3 linked regions of the Homo sapiens genome follow. The protein of the gene in region 1 purifies or fractionates together with the protein of each later gene. This does not show direct contact. Each region holds a gene or a part of one and is shown in the gene's direction. Other genes may lie near its edges.

Region 1 (8,259 bases):
AAGGCACTGTCCTAAGAATGAAACTGGCAACCAGAGGAAAGTCCACAGCAGGCCACTCTGCCACATTCCAAGGACAATCATGTGTTCCCCTTCCCCATATCCTTTTCTTTTTATTTGCCAGAAAAGTGCAGTTCTCCAGAAGCCAGCAGGCCAACCATGGGCGTCTCCCTCCCTCCCTCCCTAAGCACACTCAGCACCCAGGAGGGACATGAGCACCCACAGCCTGGGAAGGTCCCTCAGCGGCCGGGAGGGACATAAGCACACACAGCCCGGGAAGGTCCCAGAGCAGGCTGGGTGCTCCTTGCTTACGGAGGCCCCACCAGGGCCTGGCAGGGCACCCAGAAGATGAGGGCTTTAAAGAGCTCTCTTTGTCCCCATGTGGCTCCTTCTACCATGCTCCCGGCAAGCTAATGTTCTCAGTGGCTCTTTTTTTTTTTTAACAACTCTTATTTTCAAATAAGAATAAATATGTGTGTCTGTTCTCTGGGGGTTTAGGCAGCCCCGAGCTGACCCTGTGACTGGGGAGGGATTGATGGCCCCGTCTCACCGGGAAGCCAGGTGCATCTTTTACTAAAGGTGGTTTCTGAATGATGAATGGCTTTCTCACGAACATAACACTGTTGATTGTATTTACAAACAATTCATTTTCACGTTCTGTTGATTCTGCCCCAGCCGTCCCTCCTGTTGCCTCCACAGATGATGCATTGGTGGCTATTACCACCATTGATGAAGGCGTCCTGCTCGCCCTGTGGTACCTGTTACTCCATTCATCACAGTTGAGCAGCCTGCGTGCAGCGGGAGAGCGTGTTCTCTTCGGGCCTTGCAGTTATTTATCCTTGAATTTGTGTGGGTTTGTGCACCTCTAAATACAGGTGCAAACCCACACTCCAAGATCTTAACAGGCGCAACAGTGGCCAAAATACACGGCCAGTTAAATTCTTGGGGTTTAGCCAGTCCCCCAAAGCCCACCTCTTCCACTCCACATTCTAAAAAAATACCGATGCGCATAAACAGTGTCAGCAACCTCCACTAATTAAGGCTTCCAACCAGAAGGAAAGCTGAAGTAAGTACCAGCGATCAGCATCAAATCATCAACTTTTAGGGCTGACCTAAAAGACCCCAAGCCTGAATGCCCCAGCACCCACTGGGCAAGGGGCAGCCAGTCCCCAGCATGGCCTAATCCAGGCCAAGCAGGAAATTTCTGGAATCAGCTGCTTTTTCCACATTTCTCTATCTAGACCCCCTCCTCCTGGCTGCCTCTCTGGTTCAGTGGTGGCGTTCCCCTGAGCTTGACCGGGCTCTGCAGATGGGCTGGCATGCATGGAAGAAGCTGGCGCTGTGAGGAGTCCTGGCTTCCCGCTCACAGCCATTGGGCCTTGGGTGAGTCAGTCAGTCTCTCCAGACCTTGAGGTCTTCACCCAGGACATGTGGAGGCTCAGAAAGGAGCCCAGGTTCCTGCCCATCTGGAAAATCTGCATGTTCCTGGTTGCAGCAAGAGTCTGCCAGGCTCACACTTGCAAAGTACTGGTCCATATAAAAGCATAAAGCAGGCCAGGCACAGCGGCTCACACCTGTAATCCCAGCACTTTGGGAGGCCAAGGTGGGCCAATTGCTTGAGCCCAGAGTTTGAGACAAGCCTGGGCAACATAGCGAGACCCCATCTCTACAAAAAATACAAAAGTTATCTGGATGTGGTGGCGCATGCAAGCGGTCCCTGCTACTTGGGAGACCGAGGTGGGAGGATTGCCTGAGCCTAGGAGGTTGAGGCTGCAGTGAAGTGAGCTGTGATCACACCACTGCACTCCAGCCTGGGCGACAGAGAGCCACCCTGTCTCAAAAAAAAAAAAAAAGGCCAGTCACAGTGGCTCACACCTATAATCCCAACACTTTGGGAGGCCAAGGCAGGCAGATCACTGGAGCTCAGAAGTTCAAGACCAGCCTGGGCAACAGGGCGAAACCCTGTCTCAATTTTTTTTTCTTTATAAATTACAAAAGAGAAAACGAGCATAAAGCAGCCCCATCAGCAATTATCACCTCATCTGCAAAAGGTCCCGGCGCTCACTGCCGTGCCCCTCCCGCCGCTGTCCAGTTCCCTGCCTGTCACACCAAAATTCTCCTCTACTTTCTCACCTCCCATCCTTTCATTTTTCCCCCTAAATTTTTAAACTTCAGAAGTGCACAATACACATGTAACAAACCCACACATGTACCTCCAAATCTAAAATAATTTAAAAAAACAAAAAGGAAACTCTAAATTTTTTGAGTGCAGTGATACATTCTTGCTGTGCCAAATCCAGTAACACAGAAGCATGCAAAGAAAAAGGCAGCACCACCCCCCTCCAACACACACACACACACACACACACGCACACACGCACATATGCACGCACACACACGCACACGCACACACGCACACGCACACACTCCAGCCTGGGCGACAAGAGCAAGACTCCATCTCAATAAATAAATAAAGAAAATAGTAATTGAATATTTTCCTTCAGGAAACAGCACCCTGCAGGGAGGGGAAGTCTTATGACCCTCAAAGTTTGAGAGCCTCTCTTAACTTCCCAATGGCCTCTGTCTGCTGAACCAAGAAGCCTGCAAAACAAATACGTAAGAACTGGATACCATTTCAGTCACACATGCTTGCTGACAGTCACTGATATGGTAATGCCTCCTGTACACATAGCTGACTCTGAAGACTGCTAAGAGGGTTTGGGTCTCTGCTGTACAGGACCTTGGCAGCCTGCAAGGAGATGACTCACATGGAAGTCCCCACACAAGTGCACCCAGTGTGAACTTTGGAAGCATCGGCCCATGCTCAGGCCCACAGGTAAGATGGCCAGGAGCCCCTAACCTTGAGGAAACTTGAACCACAGAGCTGCTGGCGAAGGGGGTGGGTGAAGGTCTCATGTAGCCTGTGTGATTCAGGCAGAAGTGAGAAGGACGGGTGGGAACCCACCAAGTGGACGACAAGCTGAAGGGCTCCCAGGGAGCAGACACTTCAAGGGCCCCAAAAGGCCAGGAGAAAGAAAAAAAAAAGCCGGGTATGGTGGCTCATCCCTGTAATCCAGCACTTTTGGGAGGTTGAGGCAGATGAATTGCTTGAGCCCAGAAGTTTGAGACCAGCCTGGGCCTGGGCAATGTGGCGAAACCCTGTCTCTACAAAATATACAAAAATTAGCCGGGTGTGGTGGTGCAAGCCTGTAGTCCCAGCTATTCAGGAGGCTGAGGTGGGAGGATCACATGAGCCCAGGAGGTGGAGGCTGCAGTGAGCTGTGATCGTACCACTGCACTCCGGCCTGGGGAACAGAGTGAGGCCCTGTCTCAAAAGGCCAGGAGTGGAAGACAGGCCCTAGCCAGGAGGTTTCGCGTGGCTGGCAGGGGCCTTATGAGAAGGCTGTTGCTGGGAGGGGCCTGCTGCAGATGGCTGCGGCAGACCACGGAGCTTAGCCTTCAGGATTTAGATCTGGGGATGACAGGCTCCTGTGTGCTTGTTGCGGAGCCGGGAGCACAGGCACCAGAATGATCCCAGGGCTCAGCTCCAAGGCTCCGCTGGGCCTGTGGTGGGGCAGTGAACGTGGACAAGACCTGGGCTTCAGAGGAACTTGATGACCAGGAGCCGTGGTTACCGCCTGTGCCCTGGCCTTCCTGCTCTTCAAAGGGTGTGTTCTGAGCTGAGGCGAGACCCACACGAAATCCGAGCGGGCTCCGGAGTCACCAGACACCTAGGGAAGTATGGAAGGCCCGGAAGGACACACACAGCCGGGTGAGCCCCGCAGGGAGCTGTGCAGTCTCAGGTCGTCCAGTCCTGGGGCTGCAGGCCAGTTCTCCAAGCAGGTGGTCCTGGAGGCAAGCTGGTTTTGAAAGTAGGTTCTGAAAATAGGTCAGTCCAGGAAACAAGCTCTGGAAGTAAAGAGATTCGGAAAGCAGGTTCGTTCTGGAAACAAGTTCTACAAACAGGTAGTTCTGAAAGCACGTGGGTTCCAGAGGCAGGTGCTAGAAGGATGTGGGTTCTGTACGGAGGTTCTGGAGGGAGGCGGGTTCTGGACGGAGGTTCTGGAAGGAGGCGGGTTCTGGAGGCCGGTTTTGGAAGCAGGACGACACCGACAGAGGCGCCTCGGACTGGGGCCAGGCCTGGAGCCTCCGCTCCGCGGGCAGAGAGAAGAAAGCAGGCATTGTCGGAGGACTCACACAAGCACTTGTCCCTAACAAAACCGTTTTTAAAAACCCCATTGTGAACATTTTTGGAACAAGCCTCTTAGAGGGTCCCGTTGCCGGGGTGACAGGACGAAACGGCGCGAGCGGGCAGACTCCTGGAGTCCCCGCAAAGGGAGCCGAGGAGCTAGGCGCGCCGAGTCCAGGTCCGCCCTGACTCTCAGCTTGGGACGTTCCGTATAGTTTTTTTCTCCGTTTCCCGAACTTCTCCCGCACGCTCAGCGGCCGCCGCGGCGCATGCGCAGTACAACCTGCCAGCCAGCCGCGGGCGTTCCGGCCGCGGTTGCCAGGGGTTACCGTCCCGCGGGCGGGCGGAGCTGGCCGTCCAGAGCCCGCCTTCCTGGAACTCTGGTTGGCTGATATAGCTGTCCGTCGAAGCGGCATTGCCGCCTATTGGGCAATGGCCAGCTTCGCACGCCAGACCCGTGCCCCGCCCAGCCGCGCCGCGGGCCGCCCCCACTCAGGAGGGACAGTCGGGGACCGGCGCGGGCACTCAGGAGCCCGCGGCCCAGGTGGTGCGGGCGGCCCTAGCCCGGCTGCGGAGCGCTGCGCGAGCGGCGGGCTGGCTGACCCCGAGGGACCCCCAGCGCAGCGGGTGCGGCGATGATCCTGGAGGAGAGGCCGGACGGCGCGGGCGCCGGCGAGGAGAGCCCGCGGCTGCAGGTGCGCAGAACTGGCGCGGCGGCGGGAGGAGGGGCCCGGAATCCCGGCCTTTTCCTGCCCCCCCTCGAGGCGCGTTCCGGGCGCCCCCCTCCTACGTCTCATTCGGCCCGGACGCAGGCAGGGAAACTGAGGCCAGAGCCTGCGTCCCTCCTCCTCTGAGCTCGGTGGAGGTGCTTCCAGGCCACTCATGTGAGCCGGGAAATGCGGACAGCCAAAGTCTGGATCATCCTCACCGCTGAAGCGGGTTGGGGGGACGCCCTCCTCGTGTCCCCCTTCTGGGCGGATGTGGGGCTGGGCTCTGTGAGCGCCCTCCCCACACCCGCCATCGTGTTCCTTTCCGGCACCTGTACAGCCTCCTTCCCTAGTTCGGTCCTCCCTCTGCATCCGCTCAGGAACTGCATGCCCATTGGGTGCACTGGTAGCAGCGGGCAGCGAAGCCTCCTGGGTATGGGAAACCGAGAGAGGTCTTCCCGGCTGGCCTCTTCTCACTTCCCAAACCTCCTTCCCTTCTGAAGTCCCTAACCCGGGGTGCTGACTGGGCAAGTGGGAGGGGTGGGCAGGGCTGTGGAGACCTGCTGAGTCTGTGCCTGGGAAGGAGGGGACGTCTGTGGGCCTTGCTCTGCAGCCCAGAGCCTGCTTGTTCCCTGCGGACCAGCTCGAGGCTGCCCCAGTCCTCCTGCCAGGCCCTGGGCGCCCACGCCCGCCACGGGCTTTCAGCCGCGGGCTGCTCCTGCTCCTCGCCCCGGGTGAGCCTTTGATAGCGCGCGGCCCTCCTCCCCTCTGGGACGTCAGACTGTGTTGTCCCTGGGCTGGTTCTACTCGGCTTTGGTGTTTGGGGTTAGGTCTCCTAGAGGAGGAGGCGGTGCTATCAGCCAGGGTTTGGCTTCAGGTCACTGGGCTGGTGATGCTGACCGTAGCCCTCAAGGACGCCCTTCTTGCCCACCCCGAGGCGTGCCAGAGGCTGCAGCACCTCCTGGGCACTGGAGGGAAAGAGGCAGCCTGTGCCTGCCCCCTATGAACTTGCTCTGTCAGGGCGGCCATGCCTGCAGGTGGCCTGGGACGGCACATGTTGTTTTGGGTGGAATGTTTGGGAGGCTGTACAAACAAGATGTCCCAGAGGGCTCCGGAGGTGACGCTTTTCAGGCTGGGGGCTGTGCCTGGGCTCCCTGTCCTGGCCCTCCCTGGGCTGCCACCTTGGAAAGTTGGGGAGAAGCTGTTTCCAGGCTGCCGTGTCTCTCACAGCGTCCAGAAATGACCCCACAGTCAGGGTACTGGGGAGGGGCCCGTGGGAGGTGGCAGTGGGGCGGAGGCAGGCCCTGTGTCACACGCGCACCACTCAGGCTGTCCTGCCATCTGGAAAGTCTTCCCCGATGCCTGCTGCCGGGCTAGAGTGAGGCCTGTTCCACCCCCATCAGGCTGGCCCCCAAACTGGCCCTAAAGCTCAGAGTTCAGTGGGTCAGGGGTCGGTCGTTCATCCACTTAGAGGCCACACCTGGGCCTGAGGCCCTGTGGACAGGTCTGGGTGACTTGTATTTGCCCCAGGCGTGATGAGAGCAGGCTTCCAGCAAGCGCTTACCTGGTGCCAGGGCCAGTGCTACAGCTGGAGTCCTGCCATTGGTGCCTCCCAAGCCCTGGGCCTCAGCCCGTCTGATGAACAGGGTGAGTAAGTGGCCAAGGCTGCCAAGCTGGGAAGGGGAGAAGCCTGGCACGGCCCAGGGTGGCCAACCCAGCTGCCGTCCCTCCCGCAGGGGCTGCAGGGGCTCCCGGGGGAGGACCACAAGGAATACAGCCTGGCTGTATGCAGAAGGTTCTGTGGTTTCCTGGGGAGGCCAGTGGGAGAAGGGGGAGCAGGCTGCAGAGGGAGAGCGTTGGAGCAGCAGGTGGGCAGGGTGGCTGTGCCCCCCTCACCTGGTCTCCAGCATGCCGAGTGGGTCAGCCTGAGGTTCCCCAGCCTGGCTGGACAGGAGCACCCTCTGGGTGCTGGTTACAGGTTCCCAGGCCCCTGCCCAGGTAGATTGGGCTCCAGGAAGAGGGGTGCTCAGGAAGCACCAGTGCCTGGGTACCCCAGGGAGCATCAGAGAGAGTGGGAGTCCCTGCCGTGAGTGGCCAGTCTATGATTCCTCTGGCGTGCGTGCTGCTTATAGCCCTGTGTCCCAGGAGACACCTGTGCAGCAATGCCCTTTGAATTCTGTTCCCTCATCAGTGGGGGGCAGAGATGGTGGGTCAGGTGGGTGCTGGGCTTCCACCCTCCTGGGGCTTCCAGTTCTTGCATTCAGGTGAGACTTCAGTGGGGGCAGAGGAGAGGGGTACCTGAGATGGGTGGCTGTCAGCATACAGGGTGCCCAGGGCCAGGGCTCTGAAGGGAAAAAGCTGGTTTGCTCCAGGTGGGTGACCTCTCCCTGGGGACTGCCTGGCCCAGGGCCAGGGGATCCTGGGGGAGAGTGGAGGTCTGGCCCTGCTCTGATGTTTTGCTGTTCCCAGACCTGGGCTGGGATAACTATCTCTGCCTTTTGCCCGTCCCCAGGTCAGCCCCACTCTGGCCAGGGCCACACTGTTTCCTCCTGGGCAGAGGAGCCCCAGTGTCAGGGTTGGGGGGCTGTTTCTCTGTTCTTCGTCCCTCTCCATCGAGGCATGGCCAGGCCCTTCATGTGTGGCTGCCTCTCGGGACCCCCACAGACCACAGCCTCTCTGTCCTTTCCTAATGCAAGGCGGAAATGGCCACAGTGGGGTGTCAGGGCACCGTGGACGTGGGGGTGGGGAGCTCCAGGTCACCTTTGTCTCCAGAGGGTGGGGAGGTTGTAGCAGGAGTAGGGGCCTGAACGCCTGTGTCTATGCCCCTTCCACTGGGCTCAACCTTCAACCCAGTGTGGAAAGTGGGGCATGGGCCGCCCACCTCCAAGGTCTACCCAGCCTCAAAGGTCCGGCTCGGGTCTGCTCCTCCGCCTGTAGGCCGGGAAGTCACTTGGCCTGCAGGGAGCACTGCGGGTAGGGAGGCCGAGGAATGGACCAGGCCCACAGCAGGTGCCTGTGGGGCTCCAAGGGGCCAGGCTCCCCGCAGCTCTCCTGGGGCCAGGAGGGGAGCAGGGACCTGGCTGGGTGTCTGATGCCCGTCGCACAGCCAGAGCCCTTAAAGCTGCTGGAGCCTTGCAGCGGGGCCTTTGCGGGGAGGGGGTGTAGCTGCGGTGGGTGGCACGGGGGTCTCCTAGGTACTGGGCAGAGGCCCTCGAGGTGGTAGCGCCGGTGGGAAAGGTAGGGATGGGAGGCGGGGGTGGGCGGGCCTCAGGTTCAGGGAGCTTCTCAGATCTGAGGCGCCCATGCCCCTCTCCCACCTGTGGGCCTCTCCAGCCCGAGTCCCTGAAGCAGCTCTGGAGGGAATTT
Region 2 (7,597 bases), on another chromosome or scaffold:
ACGCCCAGCTAATTTTGTATTTTTAGTAGAGATGGGGTCTCTCCGTGTTGGTCAGGCTGGTCTCAAACTCCCGACCTTGGGTGATCTGCCCACCTTGGCCTCCCAAAGTGCTAGTGTTACAGGTGTGAGCCACTGCACACGGCTGTGTGCAGGATCATTCTTTTGCCTGGTGTTCGAGACTCCACACAATATTCCCTGAGCCTGCCCTTCCAACCTTACTTCCCAAGTTATTTTACTCCTCTGTAGCTATCTGACACTCTAGCCACCCCAGCTTGCCCAGGGGTGCACCCTGGCTTTGCCAGTGCCGCTCTGCACCCTCAGGTGCCCTTACCCCATGCACCCTTCCGTTCACATGCTGCCATGCAGACCGGATAGGCAGGGCTATGCTGTGCTGACAAAATACTCCATTCCAAACTCTCAGGGAAGTAATAATAAAGGTCACCTGTCCGTTGCACACTGTACTAGCAGGAGGGCTCTGCCCTGTCTGAGTCTGCCGTAGGGGCTTGAGCTGGAGAGGCTCTTCTCTCTGGAATGTTGTTGGTCAGTGTTGCAGTTGGAAGAGAGCCTGGAAGCTGGCTTTTAACCCTCTGTGCACTTTCCCTTGACCATTACTAGTCGCATTGTTGTGCCTGATATCAAGGGGTGAGGAGGGGTAACCCTGCGTGCTCTGAGAGGTGGAGAGACCTCACTTCTGATGGAAGCTGGACACGCCCACCCCACCCACTTACCCCTCAAGTCCCCTTAACTGCCATATCTTGTGAGGTGGTTCTTGGTTCTCTCTTCCTTGTCCCCATCAACCCAACTCAGGCTGGAAATGAGCATTTCTTCCTCTGGACTCCTGTAACCCTTCATCTCTTCTCCCTTCCTTGAATTATGGTGATTTCATGCATACCTTTCCCCTTTTCTTGCCTGTATTCCAACCATCTTTTCCTCCTTCTATTCTTAGTATTGCCTTTTCCACATAACAGTCTCATAAATGGCTAGATGGTTTGTGGGGTGCAGAAGCAGGGAGACTAGGTGTATATAGAGCTAGTTCAGACAAGCTGGGGTAGGGGCCCGAGCTGTGGCAGCAGTGAGGAAAGGGGGATTGCAGAGATGGAGCCATGACCAAGCTTTGCATAAATGAGGAAAGCACAGTGACATGGAAGTGCTGTGTGTCAGCAGAAGAATACCATGGAGATTTGAGTGCTATTTCCTCACAGCTGCATGTGCCACCAGAATAAAGTGTACCCACTGGATTGTGGTGTATTACTTAAGTATCACCATGATCACATAAATCACCATGGAGCTTTCGAAGCACAAAAAGAATGCCTTTCAGAGGAAATTGTTATTTGAAGGAGTTGGCTGCTGAGTGTTAGAAATCATCTAGGGTTAGAAATCATCCTCAGTAACAGAGGGCAGGTGAGCTACAAATTGACTAGAAGAAACATGGCCCCTGTCATCCCTGGGCAGGGACACATGCATAGCTATTTTAAGATTAGGTTAAACTGATTCTGTTAGCTGCAGGTCTGGATCTTCCTGAAACATGGGGGCCAGGGCAGGGGGCAGCTGCAGCTGTTTAATGTGGCTCCTCTTGGCTTCTGGACACTTTATGGGCTGTGTGGCTGCTGGTGACACTGTTGGACCAGAGAAGTTCAGATCCTGCTATACCATTACCCTTTTACAGTCGAAGCTCTCATATTCATTTGGGAAGAACAATAAAAATTTCCAGTTAAGGAAATGCTTACAGACAGTTGGTGCTTGAACTAGCTCAGCAGCAGCAAGGCCACATCCCTACCCAGGGAAGAAAGGCAGAGTCCCCAGCCCAGTGCCTTGAATGGTATCTCTGCCTCAACTTCCCCAGAGTTCCAAAAAGTCTGCTAGTCTGCTGTGGGTGTGGTTCGTTTAAGACAGGGTCTCACTTTGTCACCCAATGAATGCCACCCCTTAAGTAGGCAGAGCCATGCCCATCCTATAGATGAGGAAGCCGAAGCTCCCAGGGTCACTCAGATAGTGTGGCTAAAGCTAGGTCATTCTAGCGGGGATTTTTACAAGCTGTGTTAAAAATGTCATCAGAGGTAAGGGCCGATCTCAGTATTTGGTTGGAGTAATTAGTCCATTTAAAAAAATCTCATTTTGAACTCATTTTTTCTAGATAACCTCTTTGTGCCCAACCAGAACGGATACTACTGTCACTCTCAGACAAGCTTGGATAGAGCCCAGATTGACCTCAACGGTCGGATCCGTAATGGCAGTGTCTACAGTGCACACAGCACCAACTCCTTAAATAATCCTCAGCCCTACTTGCAGCCCTCGCCGATGTCGTCCAACCCTAGCATCACCGGGAGTGACGTCATGAGGCCTGACTACCTCCCGTCCCATCGGCACAGCGCCGTGATACCCCCGTCCTACCGCCCCACCCCAGACTATGAGACTGTGATGAAGCAGCTCAACAGGGGCCTGGTGCATGCGGAACGGCAGAGCCACTCGCTGCGAAACCTCAACATCGGCAGCTCGTACGCCTACAGCAGGCCCGCGGCGCTGGTCTACAGCCAGCCCGAGATCCGCGAGCACGCACAGCTCCCCTCGCCAGCGGCCGCACACTGCCCGTTCAGCCTGAGCTACAGCTTCCACAGCCCGTCTCCCTACCCCTACCCTGCCGAGCGGCGGCCCGTGGTGGGCGCGGTCAGCGTGCCGGAGCTGACCAATGCGCAGCTGCAGGCGCAGGACTACCCGTCTCCCAACATCATGCGGACGCAGGTGTACCGGCCACCCCCACCCTACCCGCCCCCCAGGCCCGCCAACAGCACGCCAGACCTGTCCCGCCACCTTTACATCAGCAGCAGCAACCCCGACCTCATCACGCGGCGCGTGCACCACTCGGTGCAAACGTTCCAGGAGGACAGCCTGCCCGTGGCGCACTCGCTGCAGGAGGTCAGCGAGCCCCTCACCGCCGCGCGCCACGCGCAGCTGCACAAACGGAACAGCATCGAGGTGGCCGGGCTCAGCCACGGCCTGGAGGGCCTGCGGCTCAAGGAGCGCACCCTATCCGCGTCGGCGGCAGAGGTGGCGCCGCGAGCCGTCTCGGTGGGCTCCCAGCCCAGCGTTTTCACCGAGAGGACACAGCGAGAAGGGCCGGAGGAGGCGGAGGGCTTGAGGTACGGCCATAAGAAGTCCCTGTCGGACGCCACCATGCTAATCCACAGCAGCGAGGAGGAGGAGGACGAGGACTTCGAGGAGGAGAGCGGGGCCCGGGCGCCTCCTGCACGTGCGCGCGAGCCTCGGCCCGGCCTGGCCCAGGACCCACCTGGCTGCCCTCGCGTCCTGCTCGCCGGGCCCCTGCACATCCTGGAGCCCAAGGCCCACGTCCCAGACGCGGAGAAGAGGATGATGGACAGCAGCCCCGTCCGCACGACCGCAGAGGCCCAGCGGCCCTGGAGAGACGGGCTGCTGATGCCCTCCATGTCGGAGTCCGACCTCACCACGTCAGGCCGCTACCGAGCCCGGAGGGACTCTCTGAAGAAAAGGCCGGTGTCGGACCTTCTCTCTGGGAAGAAGAACATCGTGGAAGGGCTCCCGCCTCTAGGGGTAAGCCACGCGGCGAGCAGTGCCGGGCCAGGGGACCGCGCGTTCGCCCTGGCGCTTCTTTCACTCATCACGTCCCGTGTTTTTCAGCTCCTCTTGTTCTTTTAACGTTCTTCATTCCCCCACGTCACTCTCTTTTTGTCTAATTCTGAACACATTTAAATTTATGGAAATCATGGGGATCCACTTGAATTTTAGTGGTTTTACTGGAGATAATTATTATAGATGAAGTGAAAAGGTAAATTCACAGGGTTTTGTCGAAATGGAAAAGATGAATGAAATGTTTTAGTAATGCACTGTTAAGGGAAAGACAGTTAAGATTTCATTACTTTAGCCACGATTGCTTTAGCCACCCATTAAAAATACTGTGGGTGATGTGGCACCCCAGGGGTGCATTTGTTTAGTTTGCTCAAGAGATATCTGAAAAAAGCATCCAGGAAAGTGTACCCAATCCTAATATAATTCTCCAGGTTGGAGTGTGTGTGGATACAGCTTACATATCTTGGCCGTGATTCTCCAGAGTGATTCTGGAGTTGGGAAGGTGGCACTTTGTTAAGGCAAATCCTGAGACGTCCAGGTTTCTTAAATTTAAAAGAAAGATGAATTCAGCTGAGAATCTAAGGAAAGTCCCCGGTAGAAGATGCAGTTCTTTAATATTCAGCCTAATAAATAAATATGAATTAAGCACTTTTTACCTACTTTGAAGCAAAATATAAAAAAGCATAGTAGCATCATCTCTAGCTACCATCCTTGGAGCATTTGCCATGGGCCAAGCATTTCCTCTACTTTTGTGGCCTATTTACAGTAAGCCTATTGTTATGCCTGTTTTACAGATGAAGAAACAGACTTAGATATTAACTAACTTTTCCAAGGTCACATGACTAGTGAGTGACTGAACTGGAATTTTAAACCCATACTTAGAAGCCCATTCTGTTATCATCTACACTGTAGATGTATGTTCTGCATTGAAGTATACTGTATATGTTCTATTAAGTCATAATTGCTTGTTGAAGCCTTGCTAGTCTTTCACTGAAACTTTTAAACTCAGTCCTTAACCTGGGACTAAGCATCTGCGGCCTTGTCATGAAGTGTGTCCACCGAAGTGATTTTGTTGCAGTGCTCAGGCTTCCAGCTCTTCCTGGCCCACATCTCCACTCCTCATGCCCTGCACTTGAGCCAGGCTAACTTGATTAGGGCCTCCATCCTATCTCCTGTTGGCTTCCAGTGTCCTGGCAACTAGGGTTCTCCTCCCCCCATCGCTGCTAAACTGCAAACTCCGACAGGACGGCTCATCTCAAGTGTGGTTCTGGCCTAGTGTATGACATCCTTTAAGATGCTGCAAACATCTTGCTAAACAGGAAAAAACGCACACTATTATAGTACTTATGAAAGAGATTAATGTACATAGACAAAAACTACTTAACAAAAAAAGTACCACAGATTTAAATTTGCTTTTTTTTTTTTTTTTTTTTTTTTAGAACAGTCTTGCCCTGTTGCCCAGGCTGGAGTGCAGTGGTGTGATCTCAGTTCACTGCAACCTCTGCCTCCTGGGTTCAAGCGATTCCCCTGCCTTGTGATCTGGCTGCCTCAGCCTCCCAAAGTGCTGGGATTACAGGTGTGAGCCACCACACCTGGCCTAAATTTGCTTTCTTTTAATAAGTTTTGGGTTTGAATTTTAAGTTGATTTTTAAATTTTTCACAAGTATGCAACATAACTCACATCCCTGAACAGTAAAGGCCAATGCCTTCAGTGGACACAGATTTAAGAGTGTAGGGAGCAGTGATTCAGGATAAGGTGTGGGTAGATTTTCCAAAGTAACTCTACCTGAATCCCTGAGCCAGCTGGACAGGGTCCTTTTATAGTTAACACCCTTCCCATTGCATTAAGAACGGTCTGTTTTTATGTGTGACTCACGTACTTTCCCCAAATGCTATCTGAGTACAGCTCAGTACTCAGGCCTATTTTATCCCTGTATGTTTTGAATGGGGTCTGGTAGGTTCAGTTAAATCTGAGGACTTTGATCAATTTGGTTCTCTTAAAAGAACTTTTCTCTCCCATTGACTTTTAAGACCACAATACTAGTAAAATTATGTGATTGGATTATGTTTTTGGTCCTTTTTGCTTAAAGGATTCTACTTAAGGAATGGGTATGGCAGCTGTGGTCACGAGGAAAGAGCAAAGGTCCTACAAGTTAAGAACGTTGGGGCTGAGTCTAGAGCCTGCCATTTGTTAGTTCTCTGTGACCACGGTCAGGACCCTTCATGCGTCAGAACCTCAGCTTCCACATCAGATAACCTCAGATCATGAGGACGGTCATCCCTTCGCTGCCTGCTTCGTGGCATTATGTCCCACATGCAGTTAGGCATGAAAAAATGCCTCCTGAATTACATGATTCAGTGTAACTGATTTTAACCAAAGATTTGCTTTTATTTGTTTTGACACTGATTACCTTGTAAAAGAGGCAGCCATGTGACCTCAGACAAGCTATTTAATCTGTGACTCAGTTTTTACATTTGTAAATGAGAGGACCCCAGAGAGTTGTTGGGGGGATAAAAATGAGGTTCTGGCACATTGAAAGAGATTAGTCAATATTAACATTACTGTGAGGTGGCATCATATATTTAACTTAATGGCTTTCAAGAGTGGAAGAGGCCAATTCCCTATTGTACCCTCTGACCTTTCATAGTAACATGGGGTTGCCATTATCTTAATCGTTACAACAAATTTCCTAATGTGAATTAAGGTTATGGAGGTTTAGTATTAAAAACAGTGAAATAAACTGTAGACAAGTAGGAATGATTTTAGAATTCTCCACCCATCTCCACCTCCAGCAACCTGATTGTTATCTTAAAGGCAGACTGGTTTGGGTGCTCATATATCTACATAAAGATTTTCTTTTTGTTGTACCCTTTAGTGCAGTGGTTCTCACATAAGAAATCACTGTGCAGGGTATGCATTAAAATCCTGTGCTTATATTCTAAGGGCTAATTAAGGCATATTCAAGGCTAGTTTTGACTACATACAACATTCTTCCAATACTGGCTTTTGAACTGACCTCACAGCCAATCAGCTTTATCCAGCGTGTCCCAGTGTGGGATATTTTGAGTCATTTTCAGGCAGAGAAGTGCCAGAGCTAGTTCATATTGACTAGCAAGAGCCGACTTAAATGTTCAGGAACCTTGTGAGCCAATTGATGTGACATTAACAGTTTGAAATTGGCTGTGATGGGAGTATTTACACCATGGATATGGGCAAACACCGATCAAAACTTCCTTCCAAGAGCCTGTTGTTAAATATTACCAGCACATCACTGTTTTCTGCACGTTAGAATCATTAAATTTCAGCCTAAGCAGGAAGTGTTTAGTCTGTATGCCTGTGTCTGGATATATCTGTCTCTTTCTGTCTAGGTGAGGCTTACAGAGGAAAGGTGACTTGCCTGAAAGAAGTTGGTCAGTTAGAGGCCAGATGTGAACCCAGGCCTCTGCTGTTTATAGTCTAGACTGCATTATGTGGGGAGCTCATGATCAAATATTAATTATAAAATTAAAAATTAATCCACTTAGCTTATTGAGTTAGGTACCAATCACAGTCTCCAATTACAGCAGCAATCTTTTAGGATTTTTTTCCTCTCTCACCAAGTTGCCTTTTCCCTCTGTTCTTGCACCATTATCATGGGGCTTCATGGCCTGTTACAGGCTGAGAGAGCTGGAATAACACGGATTTTGTTTACAGGGCAGAACCATTATTTTCCAGTTGGGGCTACTCATTATATTGATATCATCCAAGGAAGTGTAGTATATCCAACGAAACTTAGTGTTCTTTTTTTTTTTGGAGACGGAGTCTCACTCTGCCTCCAGGCTGGAGTGCAGTGGCACGATCTCAGCTCACTGTAATCTCCACCTCCCAGGTTCAAGCCTTTCTCCTGCCTCAGCCTCCCGAGTAGCTGGGATTACAGGCATGTGCCACCACGCCCAGCTAATTTTTGTATTTTTAGTAGAGACGGGGTTTCACCATATTGGCCAGGATGGTCTC
Region 3 (7,597 bases), on another chromosome or scaffold:
TCAGTTTATCATCAGTTTCTCCTAGATATAACTTCCATGAGAACAGGGCCCATGTCTTTTTTGCTTAAGCTCAGAACAGGGCCAGGGCAGTTCAGGAAGCATTAGTCTGTGGAATTTTCTGTGGGCCACGTGCCTGGGAGCTGGGGAGGAGGAGACAGAGGTGTTCCTGGCAGCTGGTTCTGGGGTAGCATATTGAGAAACTTAAAGGGGATGTGTGTGGGGCTGGACGGGGAGGGCAGGGCATGCATGACAGCCTCCACGTGTGGTGGGCCTCATTGGCCTGGGCTCGCCTTCAGCAGAATTTTGCTTTTCTGACCCTGCTGCACTCCAAGCTGCCCTCTTAGAGGTTTCATGCCAGGCGTGGTGGCTCACGCCTGTAATCCCAGCTCTGAGGGAGGCAGAGGCGGGAGGATAGCTTGAGCCCAGGAGTTCAAGACCTGCCTGGGCAATATAGCAAGACCCCATTCTCCACAAAAAGGAAGAAGAAAAAAAAAAGACAGAAAAAAGAGGTTTCTTGAACCTCCGAAAATTCTGGATTCACCAAAGACCCAGGCCTTTAGCAAGGCAGACAGCAGGGCTGCGAGCAAGGCCTCTGAATCCTGGGGAAGAGCTGGAGAAGCGTGGTGAGGAAGCCTCCCAGCCCTAACTCCATTCTCTGTTATCTTTACAAACAGCAACCCAGACTACTACGGACTCATCTAACAAAACAGCACCGACTCCAGCATCCAGTGTCACCATCATGGCTACAGATACAGCCCAGCAGAGCACAGTCCCCACTTCCAAGGCCAACGAAATCTTGGCCTCGGTCAAGGCGACCACCCTTGGTGTATCCAGTGACTCACCGGGGACTACAACCCTGGCTCAGCAAGTCTCAGGCCCAGTCAACACTACCGTGGCTAGAGGAGGCGGCTCAGGCAACCCTACTACCACCATCGAGAGCCCCAAGAGCACAAAAAGTGCAGACACCACTACAGTTGCAACCTCCACAGCCACAGCTAAACCTAACACCACAAGCAGCCAGAATGGAGCAGAAGATACAACAAACTCTGGGGGGAAAAGCAGCCACAGTGTGACCACAGACCTCACATCCACTAAGGCAGAACATCTGACGACCCCTCACCCTACAAGTCCACTTAGCCCCCGACAACCCACTTCGACGCATCCTGTGGCCACCCCAACAAGCTCGGGACATGACCATCTTATGAAAATTTCAAGCAGTTCAAGCACTGTGGCTATCCCTGGCTACACCTTCACAAGCCCGGGGATGACCACCACCCTACGTAAGTAATGCCTGGTTTTCTTCAAGCACCAAGAAACTTTTCAGGGCCAGGCGTGATGGCTCTGAAAAGGCTCATGCCTTGTAATCCCAGCACTTTGGGAGGCCGAGACAGGTGGATCACCTGAGGTCAGGAGTTCGAGACCAGCCTGGCCAACATGGCGAAACCCTGTCTCTACTAAAAATACAAACATTAGCTGGGTATGGTGGCAGGCGCCTGTAATCCCAGCTACTCAGGAGGCTGAGGCAGGAGAATTGCTTGAACCTGAGAGGGGAATAGTTTCTATTTCATACCTATTTATTTATTTATTTATTTATTTTTGAGATGGAGTCTCGCTCTGTCACCCAGGCTGGAGTGCGGTGGCATGATCTCTGCTCACTGCAACCTCCACCTCCGGGTTCAAGCAATTCTCCTGCCTCAGCCTCCCGAGTAGCTGGGACTACAGGTGTGCACCAGCACACCAGCTAATTTTTTTTTTTTTTTTTTTTTTTTTTTCAAGTAGAGACAGTGTTTCACCATGTCAGCCAGGCTGGTCTTGAACTCCTGACCTCGGGTGATCTGCCCACCTTGGCCTCCCAAAGTGCTGGGATTACAGGTATGAGCCACCATGCCCGGCCGATACCTGTTTACTTACTTACTTACTTATTATTTATAAGAGCTTGTCTTAACCTAGTAAATCAATTTCAAAATCTACCTATGGATCAAGAGCCTTAGGATCATGGCCCATCTCAGACCTGTGGACCCAGAGTTTCTGAGCGCTCCTGGTGATGTTGCTGCATATCAGAGGCATATGGTCTGAAGTCAGCAGGCCACCGCTCCACAGGAGGGTGCCACACAGTAGGAGTGCGGGCTCCGGCTGAGATAATCCTGGCTTCGAATCCCTGCCCTGCCATTGTTGGCACAGGAACTCGGGCAAATCACTGAGCCCCTCGGAGCCTCAGTTTCCTTGTTTATGAAATAGGGATGATGCCGATTCCTTCCCCAGAGGATTGTGAGGATTCAGTAGGAAAGTACCTTTGAGGCACCCAGTCCCTTGCACAAAGTTAAGTGCTCAGTGAACGTTTGCTGCGGCTGCTGTGACTTTGCCGGGTTATTCCACTGGCTTGTCATAGGAGTCCACTTCTTCCGTCTCTGTGGGAGGTAAGACCAAAGAACCTGGGAAAACTATTAGAGCAAGAAAAGATTGTCCTCTTCTCGCAAGGGTGCACTCATCTTTTCTCATTACCCTCGTTTTCCCAATGACAGCGTCATCGGTTATCTCGCAAAGAACTCAACAGACCTCCAGTCAGATGCCAGCCAGCTCTACGGCCCCTTCCTCCCAGGAGACAGTGCAGCCCACGAGCCCGGCAACGGCATTGAGAACACCTACCCTGCCAGAGACCATGAGCTCCAGCCCCACAGCAGCATCAACTACCCACCGATACCCCAAAACACCTTCTCCCACTGTGGCTCATGAGAGTAACTGGGTAACTCCAGCAGGGGTGGGGCAAGTAGGAGAACCCAGACTCGGGTAGAAGAGGCTTTAAGACAAGGTTTTCTGTTCTTTCCTCCAACGCAGGGCCCCTGGCTGGGGCTTTGAGCAGCACTTACCCATTCCCTCCTCCCTCTCCCTGGTTAGCCTGGTCCTGGCTTGAGCTGCCCTCAAGCCACGCAGCCAGGACATACCTGGCTCTGGAATGGGTCCAGCCATGCCTCCAGCTTGCCGTGAACTCTTTCCTATCTGGGTCACCCCTTAGTTGGGGGGAAATGTCAAAGATTCCATGACTATTAGCCCAAACCTTAATCTCAGTGGCTTCTTCCAGGCAAAGTGTGAGGATCTTGAGACACAGACACAGAGTGAGAAGCAGCTCGTCCTGAACCTCACAGGAAACACCCTCTGTGTGAGTAGCTTGCTGATCTGAGCCGCCAGGTGCAGGCTCACAGCAGGGCTGAGGGAGGGAGAGGGAATGTATGTTCTTTCTAGGTGCATTTTTAAACATCTTTCTAAGGTGCATTTGCTTTCCGGCCCTCATTTCTTCCTAGTAGGAAGTGGTCCTTTCCCATCTTACAGAGCAACAGACCAAGGTTTAAGACTTCTCTAAGTCAGGACACACCCACAGGACTGGACCCCCCCCTCCCACCCCCCGGTTTCCTCGGCTTTCACTGTGTGACTATTTCCAGTATGCTGAGTTGAGGGACCCTGATCCTAGTTCCTGTTTGCCCCTAGCTCTGGGAGTGACTTTGGTGAGTTGATCTCTTTGGGTTTCAGATGTCTCAATTGAAAATGAGAGGTGAGGCCAGGTGTGGTGGCTTACACCTGTAATCCCAACACTTTGAGAAGCTGAGGCAGGAAGTTTGCTTGAGGCCAGAAGTTCAAGACCAGCCTGGGAAACATAGGAAGACCCTGTTTTTACAGAAAGAAAAGAAAAGCAAGAGAAAATGAGAGGTGTAGTCTGTCTGCTTTAATCGTCTGTGGCTTCACATTTCCTGGTCTGTGGACTATCTGAGAGCCTTGATGGACGAACAGTGCTGGGAGATTCTCCCTCTAACCTGAGGAGCTGATGGGATGGGTGGGAGAGAAAAGGGCCCAGGAATGCAGGAGCCACTGCCAGCATTTCTCCAGTCTGGGTGGTGAGCGTGCGTGTGAGCACACCTGTGTGAGGGAGGTAGCAGTGTGTGAGCAGCCTTCAGGCCACCGGTCTCCATGGGTCCAAAGGCTTTGGTCTGGGGAGTGTGCGCTGTGCACACTCAGTAAATAACTGCCGAGCGCGGCGGGTGCTGGAGATGGCTGGCTCACTGCTGCCCTCTCCCGGTCAGTGCCGGTTTTTTGCAGCCACCCCCTAGGAACTAGAACTAGAACAGACCTGAACACGGTGTCTATAGATAGGATGGAGAATTTGGGCTTACAACACTTTAATGCTGCCTGAATTTTCTGCAGTTGTTTTCTTTTGGGTGTCCATTATGCCGGCATTTTCCAAGTGAACTTTACAAAAGCCTACATCTAGACCAGAGTTTTAAAAGGGAGCAGTGCTCTCCTAGGGCTGGGCTTATTGGACAAGGCAGGCATTGCATGATATGGGCTCTGGGGACAGTCAGGTGCCCGCCCAGCCCTTCCTCAGACCCTCTTTTTGGATGTAGCTTGGTAGGCTGTGTGATTGTTGTGAGACACTTTTTTTTTTTTTCCCTTTGCTAGAAAAGGAAGATGGAAAACCCTGGATCCCTTCCTGATGTCAGGGTGGGGAATTACTAAGCCTAAGGAAATTCTGGTAGAAACCTTAGGGGTGGTTTGTATGGGTTCTGTGCTAAGCTATCCCTAGAGTCCTTTTCTTTGTCTTAGTCATTTATTCCAGAATCAGGTCAGAGAAGCCCCAGGGAGGGGTGCCCCTAGATGGCATGGCAGGACTGGATACATGCTGCCCACACTTCTCCCCTCATCCTCAGCTCTAAAGCCACGTCAGCCACAATCTTTGTTCTTAGAGCTAAATAAGACCCCCTCCAAGATATCCTAGGGGTAGCTTCAAGATCCCACCTGTTCCCCTACTCAGTGGAGCCCCTTCCCTGTCAGCCTGTCCGTGGCTTCAGAGCCAGAGGCTCTGCCTAGGGCAAGGGCACATGTATTTCAGCTTTGGGGGTAGAGACCCTTCTGCTGAGAGCTGCAGCCTCCCCACCTGATTTCTCCGAACTGGGCATGAAAGGCTGGTGAATGGGAGTTTAGGGGGAATTGGAGTCTCCCTGCGGGCTGTGGGGTAGGGTTGCTGTGCAGTGCCCCCTCTCTAGCCCGTTCTAGGGAGGGAGATGAAAACAACCCCCAATCCGCAAACAGCTTGGAGGGAAAAAAGAGGCACTAGGGTGAAAGGAATGAAAGGTGCAAGCGTAGACCAGATAAACACAGTGCGGAGAACGGGCTGATGGGAACGAGACAGAGGAGGCAGGAACTGGCCCAGGAGAACAGCATGCAACCCTTGATTCCTGGCAGGCCTGCGTGGAGCACCAGCTGGGGCTAGAGAGGGAGGCAGGTTCTAGCACAGCAACAGCACTGTCCCGACCTTAGCTGGGAGGGCAGCCCCACAGGCCTAGGCTGCTGTCACGCTCCCCGCGGAGTCACCTGCGCTCTCCCCACCATAGGCAGGGGGCGCTTCGGATGAGAAATTGATCTCACTGATATGCCGAGCAGTCAAAGCCACCTTCAACCCGGCCCAAGATAAGTGCGGCATACGGCTGGCATCTGTTCCAGGAAGTCAGACCGTGGTCGTCAAAGAAATCACTATTCACAGTGAGTGGAGGGCAAGGGGGCCTGGGCTGGGGCCTGCATGGGTGGGAATGGGGGGCATGCAGAAGCCACATTGGAGGGTGGGTCACAGTGGTGCCCCTTCAGTTCCCTAAGAACTGTCAAGCCACACCCCCTCCCAGGTCACCCGAGAGACACTCAGGAGACTGAGATACGGTGCGTCCCTCTCTTGGGGCGCAGTCCCCGTCCCCCACTGCCTCGCTCTGGGCTGGGCCATTGGGCATCGTCTCCCTCTCCCACAGCTAAGCTCCCTGCCAAGGATGTGTACGAGCGGCTGAAGGACAAATGGGATGAACTAAAGGAGGTAAGCGGCCCCCCAAGTGTGGGGACAGAGTGGCTCCGAAGCCCCTTGTGGGAGGTCTGGTTACTCCCCTCTCTCTGTGGGGAGGAACCCCGTCATGTGCCTGCATGTAGAAGAGGGCGGCGGCACGGACCCTAGCAGACTGCAAGCGGAGGGGCTCTACAGTGAAGCCGGGGGCTGAGGGAGAGAGGATGCCCCCAGCCTGTTCTCTGCCACTTCCCATGCAGGCAGGGGTCAGTGACATGAAGCTAGGGGACCAGGGGCCACCGGAGGAGGCCGAGGACCGCTTCAGCATGCCCCTCATCATCACCATCGTCTGCATGGCATCATTCCTGCTCCTCGTGGCGGCCCTCTATGGCTGCTGCCACCAGCGCCTCTCCCAGAGGAAGGACCAGGTAAGCAGCTGTTTGCAGCCACACAGGGGAAGCAGCCCAGGTCACCAGAGGAACCCTCCCCTCGTGATTCCCGAGTTGCAGAAGAGGAAAGGGAGCAGGCCCTGGACCCTTTCTAACAGGCAGAGGCCACCCCTGATAGGCAGCCGCCTCAGTCCACAGAGCATTACAGAGGCAGCGTGGCAGAGGACAGAGCGTGGGCTTTGGAGTCGGGAAGACTTATTTATTTTTTATTTTATTATTATTATTTTTTTCAGACAGGGTCTTGCTCTGTCACCCAGGCTGGTGTCACCCACTGCAACCTCAAGTGATTCTTGTGCCTCAGCCTCCCCAGTAGCTGGGATTACAGGTGCCCACCACCACGCCCGCCTAATTTTTGTATTTTTACTAGAGATGGGGTTTCGCCATGTTGGCCAGGCTAGTCTCGAACTCCTGACCTCAAGCAATCCGCCTGCCTCAGCCTCCCAAAGTGCTGGGATTACAGGTGTGAGTCACCACGCCTGGACTGGAGTCAGGGAGACTTGGTTAGTCCTGGCCCTGACCTTGAGGAAGTCAGTCAGATGAGCTCTTTGGGCATCAGGTTCCTCATCTGCACAGCAGGGATAACCTCCTTGCAGAGCTGGTCTGAGGATTCATTGATAGAAGCAGGCCTAGGTGTTCTGTCTAACCAAAAATTCTTCTGCCTACCTTACTAGAATTCTCGCCATGATGGTGCCACCCAGACCCTGTGGTTCTCACTCCTGCCTGCACACCGTGGGGAACTTTAGAAAAATTCCCTTGCCTGACTGCCTCCCACACCAATTCAAACAATCTCTGAGTCCATCAGTGTAGTTGTTAAAAGCTCCCCAGGTGATTCTAGCATACACTCAAGGTTGTGTTTGAGAGGGACAGAAAGCGCCTCTGCCAGATGGCTGCTGTCTGCCGCAGGGATGATTCTAGAGACACCGTACCCATCCTGCCCAGGCTTGAGGGCTCAGTCACCCAGCCCGAGAGAGGTCATTTTTTAATAGTGTTTTTCCCATTCATTATGATAGGTGAGGTAGGTGCCTGGAGAGGAGGTTTTGGGGGAAGGGATGAAGGGGAGGAGAGAGCTTAGAGGACTCTGGAGAACAAAGTCCATCTCCACTAACTTCACAGGTTCTGCCACCAGGGTGAGGGTGAGGGGCAAGTCTTTGTTCCCAACTAGTTCCGGGCAGGCTGAGAGCCAGAATGACCACCAGGAGCAGCCAGCCCCACAGGCGAGCAATGAGGGCCTGCTTTAGCTACAGTGGGGCTCCTGAGTGGGAGGGGTACGTACATGCGCTGTATTAAGCTCAGAGCCCTCTGAAACCCCCTTCTCACCGGTCACCTTCCCCACTCT

What was found. Proteins that work in one complex are often made in the same cells at the same time.
Region 2: the proteins of RHPN1 (region 1) and PTPN21 purify together in Homo sapiens (co-immunoprecipitation; 3 studies listed by BioGRID and IntAct, with this or other methods). This does not show direct contact.
Region 3: the proteins of RHPN1 (region 1) and PODXL purify together in Homo sapiens (co-immunoprecipitation; 3 studies listed by BioGRID and IntAct, with this or other methods). This does not show direct contact.

Annotation. Positions count from the first base shown.
Region 1 is NC_000008.11:143,364,167-143,372,425, forward strand, and holds the start of RHPN1 (rhophilin-1), read left to right. Parts: upstream 1-4,709; 5' UTR 4,710-4,821; coding exon 4,822-4,881; intron 4,882-4,913; exon of another isoform or gene 4,914-5,627; intron 5,628-5,658; exon of another isoform or gene 5,659-6,531; coding exon of another isoform or gene 6,532-6,540; intron 6,541-8,259. UniProt on the Homo sapiens protein: Has no enzymatic activity. May serve as a target for Rho, and interact with some cytoskeletal component upon Rho binding or relay a Rho signal to other molecules.
Region 2 is NC_000014.9:88,474,890-88,482,486, reverse strand, and holds part of PTPN21 (tyrosine-protein phosphatase non-receptor type 21), read left to right. Parts: intron 1-2,134; coding exon 2,135-3,567; intron 3,568-7,597.
Region 3 is NC_000007.14:131,504,511-131,512,107, reverse strand, and holds part of PODXL (podocalyxin isoform 1 precursor), read left to right. Parts: intron 1-674; coding exon 675-1,280; intron 1,281-1,776; coding exon 1,777-1,872; intron 1,873-2,522; coding exon 2,523-2,743; intron 2,744-3,079; coding exon 3,080-3,157; intron 3,158-5,381; coding exon 5,382-5,529; intron 5,530-5,786; coding exon 5,787-5,848; intron 5,849-6,072; coding exon 6,073-6,240; intron 6,241-7,597. UniProt on the Homo sapiens protein: Involved in the regulation of both adhesion and cell morphology and cancer progression. Functions as an anti-adhesive molecule that maintains an open filtration pathway between neighboring foot processes in the podocyte by charge repulsion.